Homo sapiens: one gene and its partner. The protein of the gene in region 1 interacts with the protein of each later gene in a pairwise test. Each region holds a gene or a part of one and is shown on either strand. Other genes may lie near its edges. The genes, in order: SLC10A2 and TMEM222.

The links.
Region 2: the proteins of SLC10A2 (region 1) and TMEM222 interact in binary tests that used the Homo sapiens proteins (3 or more experiments, as listed by UniProt).

Annotation. Positions count from the first base shown.
Region 1 is NC_000013.11:103,046,329-103,049,610, reverse strand, and holds part of SLC10A2 (ileal sodium/bile acid cotransporter), read left to right. Parts: intron 1-164; coding exon 165-322; intron 323-3,282. UniProt on the Homo sapiens protein: Plays a critical role in the sodium-dependent reabsorption of bile acids from the lumen of the small intestine. Transports various bile acids, unconjugated or conjugated, such as cholate and taurocholate.
Region 2 is NC_000001.11:27,328,371-27,332,192, forward strand, and holds part of TMEM222 (transmembrane protein 222), read left to right. Parts: intron 1-2,344; exon of another isoform or gene 2,345-2,349; coding exon 2,350-2,434; intron 2,435-2,614; exon of another isoform or gene 2,615-2,767; intron 2,768-2,870; exon of another isoform or gene 2,871-3,699; coding exon 3,700-3,731; intron 3,732-3,822.

The DNA of each region.
Region 1 (3,282 bases):
TACACTTATTCCATAGAAAGTTATATATTGAATAAGCCTATCTTAAATACATGCATTAAAAGCAGAGACATAATGCATATATATGTACTTATTATTATATCTGCTTTTCATGTTTCACAATAACAAAACTACTAAAACATGTGCTCTCTTAACATCTTCTTTAGGTGCCGAACGGTTGCTTTTGAAACGGGGATGCAGAACACGCAGCTATGTTCCACCATCGTTCAGCTCTCCTTCACTCCTGAGGAGCTCAATGTCGTATTCACCTTCCCGCTCATCTACAGCATTTTCCAGCTCGCCTTTGCCGCAATATTCTTAGGATGTAAGGAATCATGCCAATCCCATTTCATGATAATCTTTGAAAAATCCTGGAGTTGCTAAAACAACATTTTTTTAAAACTCCCCGTTCCTGGTGGTGAATTGTACAAATATATGAGAGGAAAAAGCCACCGTCATATTATCATGACTTTCCAATTGCTGATGAAAAGATGGTAGTTTTACCAAAAGATTCTAGCAAAGATTATTTTTGAGTGAAAAGTAATGGAGGCCGATTCTCTCCAATGACTTTCTTTTCCTCAGTAATAAGGAAGGCAGAGGAACCTGTTGGGACCATTTTATTGTGCGCCTTCTGGCATTCGCCCAGGAACTCAGGATTTGGTGATCTTTTTCAAAACATTGTCTTGATATGCTTTATAAATATAGGATATTTATCAGAAAACTGGTATACAAAGAAAATTTACCAGGCTAACTTACAAGGAAGATGTGTGTGTGCATATGTGTATATGCATGTATATATATATTTTAAATACCCATATAATTGAAGTGGTTGAAGCAAAAATGTTCCTTATGTAAAGTACTAGGTGTAGTTTAAGTAATTCTTACTTCTCCTGTCCTGTGGCATGAAGCTCCCAGCGTTTCCCATCAGGCCCCACCGCCCACTGGCCTTCACCTAGTTGAAAATTCTTTCTACATTTTCCTTTCCAAGGGCTGATAATATTTAACCTCTATTTTTACATTCTATTTTTTTTAATAAAAAAGCTAGTTTTTAAAGCCTCATGACATTGTAATGAGGAATATAAAGTGAAGGCACGCAACAAAACTAATGTAAATGTTAGGTCACAAAATGTCCAGAGATATAGTTTGGTTTTGTTTGGTTTTGCTTTTCTCTCTCTCTCTCTTTTCTTTTTTTCTTTTCTTTTCTTTTTTTTTCTTTTTTTTTTGAGACAGCCCCTCACTCTGTCGTCCAGGCAGGATTGCAGTGGTGTGATCTCTGCTCACTGCAAGCTCTGCCTCCTGGGTTCACGCCATTCTCCCACCTCAGCCTCCCAAGTAGCTGGGACTACAGGTGCCCGCCACCATGACAGGCTAATTTTGTTTTTGTATTTTTAGTAGAGACGGGGTTCCGAGGCGGGCAGATCATGAGGTCAGGAGATCGAGACCATCCTGGCTAACACGGTGAAACCCCATCTCTACTAAAAATATGGTTTTGCTTTACTTTTCTGCTTAGCTTCATCAGCTCTTCAACTTGCCCTGTGATGCTGATCTCCTCTGCACTACTGTCTTGAATGTCATTCTCAAAGCAGAGGCTTCCTTTCCAGAACAGAATACTCTGAATCCACTGAAAACATTCCATGGATTTATCACTGCTCCAGGAAGCAGGAGTCCAGGCCTAATTACCTTGTTTTCTGTATAATAACGTTGTTTGATCTGCCCAATTTGGCACACAGTGGGATTTTTCCAAATAATTACTTAATGATGTCTACTAGATAAGCCAGAGAAAGTGGACTGGTTGATAGAACAATTAAGTAATGCACTAGTTGAACACTAACCCCAAAGAGGTTGATTAATAAAAAATTAAGTTGAAGGAATGAGGAAAAGGGAGCACTCAACTCGGTCTTGAAATTTCCCAGTTACATCAGTATGTATAAAAATAAGGGAGGAATCTTTGTTAAGTGTATACAATACCTGGAAACATATTTTGGTGGTAAGGCTAGGATTCTAAATTTTTTTTTGGAAAAAGGAGAGGAGGGGAAGAAAGAAAAAGGGAAAAAAGGAAGGATGGGGGAGGGAGAGAGGGAGGGAGGGAGGGAGGAAGGCAGGGAGAGAAGGGAGGGAAAGAAAAAGGGATAAACAAGAGGTATAGTTTGGTTAAATGAAATCATTGGCATAAGTTTAAGCTGAGGGACTCTCAGCTCAAAACAGTTTATAATAAGTGGCGGATCTTCAAATTGACCACAAGCTCAATTAAATTCAATAGTGTGGTTCAGTGGCTTTGAAAATAATATATGACTAGAAGTTCAGGGACCAATCTAAAGGAAATATTGATCTTGAGTTAATAAGATCTTTGAAGCAAGTCATTATCTCTCTCAGCTGTGTATCATAATGAACGTTAACATTTATTGAGCATTTACTATTCTTCACAGACCATGTTAGGCATTTAATTTTATCTCATTTAATGTTCACAATTGCCCTATGAGGTAGCTAATATTATTATGGCCATTTTATATGTGAGGTATTAGAATTCGAGGGGTCCTATAAGGAGTATTTTCTGTCCTCCTCTTGCCTTTGTGACCAATTGAGAAGTAGAAGAAAAATCAGATATTCAGATAACAGAATAGCACTTTAACTATGGATAAAACTTAATTGGAAAACATGACTTGAATCTGCAACCAAATGGGCTTGTTGAAACCACCCTTTCCTCCACTGCCTCACACATGTGCAGACATGTACTCACACATGCATAGACACTGCAGGTCTTGCCTCGCAGGGCAGAGCCTACCCTGATGAGCTGACATTAAAAATAAGCTGAGAAATGCTTGCTATCAGAGACCAGCAGCTCCACAGAAAAGAGGAATGCTGATCACCCATCAGCCGAGTCTCTTCTCTCCGGGGGAAAGATTGAATGAAGGCAGGGAGGGAATGGGAACGTTGTTCTAGTTCAAGTCCTTCTACAGAGGACCATCAAACCCATGTCCTGGAGGTTGCACTGCACCATGTGTATATTTATTAAGAACTAGCACATTAACTGGGATATGGCGGTACAGAATAAATCCTCCCTATTGTTCTTATCATTGTTGAGTACCACGTGCAGGGCTGAATGCCTGAAGAAGCTTGTGGCTGCCCTGAGCAAATGTCTCCTAAAGATTTATGCTAGGTCTTCCTGAAGTGCAGTCATCCCTCTCGCCATGAGTAGCCATAGAACTAAGAATGGTGATTTCTTTCTCTAAGCAGCCTCCAGTCTACAGAAAATGTGATCTGCCATGTGAATCATAGGTTATAATC
Region 2 (3,822 bases), on another chromosome or scaffold:
TGGAAGAAGTTCGAAGTGTATTATAAGTGTAGTAGGAAGCCATTAATAGGTGTTGAACAGGGGAATGATGGAATCTGAGTTCAATTCTCAAAAGACCACTCTGGCCCTACCATTGTCTCAAGCGCTCAAGCTGTAGACCTGGAAGACCCCCATCCTGTCAGTCGTAAACTCTCCAGTCTTCATTTGAAAGATCTTTTGAATCCATGTGTTTCTCACCACCCTGCCCCTGATCCTCTAGTCAGGACCTCCATCATCTCTTGCCAGTGGTACAGCAGTAGCCCCTGAGCTGGCCTCTCCCCCTTTCGTTCTTCCAGGCACATGTACCACTTTCTTGCTCTGCAGTGTTGTTTTCTGCCTGTTGATGTTGTGTCCTTTCACAGGTCAAGGTTAAAAGTCACCTCCTCTGTGAAGTCTTTACTGGCTCCACCCCAGCCCCCTGTAACTGCTTTTTTAAACTGCGTCTCTGGAGGCTTGGCCTGCACCCCTAGCCAGGTGCTTTATGCTCGTGCCCAGGCAGCATTGAGGCCAGGACTCGGCCACTGGCCCTGTGAGTTCTCCTTAAACTGGATCAGTCTCTCCAGCACCCAGGTCCTGTAGGGCCATGGTTCTCAGAACACAGACAGGTCTGGGGTTCCTATGTGTGACATATTGGGGTGCATCTGAGATTTATTGTTGTTTTTTAATGCCCATGGTTTATAAAAAAGGAACTTTTATTTCCTGGCATACACCATGCTTCTGTTCCAATTTCTACCCTTGCACATTCTGTTTCTTTGTTATTTCCTCAGGGAAGCCTTTCCTGAACTCCCCCACCCATACTGGTGTCATGACCGCCCACCTTTTTTTTTTTTTTTAACTTTCTTATTGAGGTATAACTTATGTACCAAACGGTGTGCGAATCTCAAGTATACAGCAGGAAGAATTTTTGCATATCACACACTCATGTAACCGCCACCCAGACGGGGGCTAGAAAGCAATGCTAAGACCCAGAGGACCCCCTTGTGCCCTCCCAGTCAGTTCTACCACAGATTCCACCCCGCTGTGGACCTCTAGCCATAGATCAGTCTTGCCTTTTCTTGGACTTCACGTAAACAGAGTGCTATGTTACGTACTCTGTGTAAGATTTCCTTCATTCACCCTTATGTCTGTGAAAGCCTGTGTTGTGTGTAGCAGAAGTGACACTGTTTTTCATTGTTATGGACTATTTCAATGTATAACTATACCACACTTATTCATCGTACTGTTGTTGAACATTTGGATTCTTTCTAGTTGTTTTTATCAATTTTATTGAATTATAGTTTACATATAATAAAATGTACACATTTTAAGAGTACAGTTCAATGAGTTTTGGCAAATGTTATTTCCCAGGGGTGAGGGCAAAGAAGGTTCCAAAAGTGAAACTGCTGAGGCATTTAGTATAGTGCCAAACTGTTTTCCAGAATGGTAGAAACAGGCCGGGTACGGTGGCTCACGCCTGTAATTCCAGCACTTTGGGAGGCCGAGGCAGGCAGATGACTTGAGGTCAGGAGTTCGAGACCAGCCTGGCCAACGTGATGAAACCTCATGTCTACTAAAAATACAAAAATTAGCCAGGCATGGTGGTGCACTCCTGTAGTCCCAGCTACTCGGGAGGCTGAGGCAGGAGAATTGCTTAAACCCAGGAGGCGGAGGTTGCAGTGAGCTGAGATTGTGCCACCGCACTTCAGCCAGGGCAAGAGAGCGAGACTCCATCTCAAAAACAAAATGGTAGGCCGGGTGCAGTGGCTTATGCCTGTAATCCCAGCACTTTGGGAGGCCAAGGCACGTGGATCACGAGGTCAAGAGATCGAGACCATCCTGGCCAACATGGTGAAACCCCATCTCTACTAAAAATACAAAAATTACCCAGGCGTGGTGGTGCACACCTGTAGTCCCAGCTACTCAGGAGGCTGAGGCAGGAGAATTGCTTGAACTCGGGAGGCGGAGGTTGCAGTGAGCCAATATTGTGCCACTGCACTCCAGCCTGGGCGACAGAGCGAGACTCCATTTGAAAAAAAAAAAAAGGTAGAAACAGTTTATCCCTCCCACCAGCAGTGAATGAGAGCTCTGGTTGTCCCTTGCCCTCACCTGCATTGGTGTTGCTGTCGTTTGAGTTACAGCCATCCTGGCGGGATGCTGAGGTATCCCATTGTGCTGTCGGTTTGCAGTTACCCTTGTCTGTGCTTCCCCAGCCTTCTGGACCACCCTAATGGCCACCTGTCAATGAAACGTAATATTCACATGCTTCTGTACTGTATGAAGGGTCCCCAGCGTCCGTCTAACTGGCTGAAAGATCCCCTAAGCTCTGTCCCTTCCCCGTCCTTTTCCTCACAGGTGGTTTTTCCCCATCATCGGCCACATGGGCATCTGCACATCCACAGGAGTCATTCGGGACTTCGCGGGCCCCTACTTTGTCTCAGTGAGTCCCCATTCTGCCCACCCGGGGGGTTCCAAGGTTTAAGTGGAAGGCTGTCCTGTCTTGCCTGCAGGCAGGCTTCGTCTCCCCAGACCCAGGAGAACGTAGATAACCCGCAGTCCTGGCCCTGGCCCTCTGCCCCTCACCAGTGTTTGACCCCTTTCCCCCTTCTCTTGCCTCCAGGACAGGCCGGGAGGGCAGTGTGGCCAGAAGGATTCTTAAGTAACTGACCCAGCCCTTTGCCCCCACCCCTGGGGTACCGAGACATGGGTAGGGATTAGAGGCAAGAGTGGAGAGTCAGACCATCCAGGAACCACATCTCTGGACCTTCAGAAGGTGGGAGTCAAGGTGGGGGGACACGGGAGGCTGATTCGGTTCCCTGGGTGTGGCCATGGAGAAGAGGGGGTGGGGCTTTAGAATGAAGCAGCTGTGTTCTCAGGTCTGTTCCCTGGGGCTGTGACCAAGACTGGTCCAGTGGGCTAGCAGCAGAGGAGCATGCATCATCCTGTCTCCAGGTGTCAGAGGCTGGACTGAAGGGGTGTGGTGGCACCAACCTGTTTATATTAATAGTTGTCATGATCATCTTAACACGACAAAGGTCTGTCACTTTGTACTTAAAAATACTTTCACATCCATTACTTTATCATATATTTTTATGGTGATTAATCATTGACCAGGTCTGTCAGCAGGGTCTCCCTGATCTGAACCCAGAGTCTGTCTCTGTGTAAGTCCTGTACCCCAGGAATAATGTGATGAGTCTAGGACTTCACTGCAGTGTCTCCCTCACAGGAAGTCCCTCTGGGCCCAGCGCCCCCGCCCTGCTATGAATGCAGTCAGACTGCTGGGCGAGGAGATGGTCTCCATGTGGGCCACCACTGTTGAGTCAGGAGGCCAGACCATGATGGAAACCTCCTGCTGGTCCTCAGAGATCAGAGAAGACTGACCAGAGAACTTGGAGAAAATGAGGCCCAGAGAGGGCAAGAGAATTCCTGGGTGCCACACCAAGGGACAGTGGCAGCTGGAGCCCCAGATCTTTGGTCTCTGATGCAGTGCTCTGTGCACTTGTGCCACACTGCCTTCTTCCTGCAGAACAGCTGCTAGCTCTTTAGATGCCATGCCAGCCCCAGGGCAGGGCCCAGGCCCCACTTCTGGCCCCCCCACCCCTGACATACCCTCTTCTAAGTCACTGCACTTCTGCCACCTACCCAGGTTTGTCATCTGGCCCAAATGTAAGTTCCTCACTGACCTCTGCTTTTGTCCCTCAACAGGAGGACAACATGGCCTTTGGAAAGCCTGCCAAGTAAGTGATGAACACCCATGTGACTGGCTCTAGAGGCAGGTCGCTCCTGCCGGGGCGGGCCAGGCCTTCTGGGGCACAGGAGGGGCCAGCA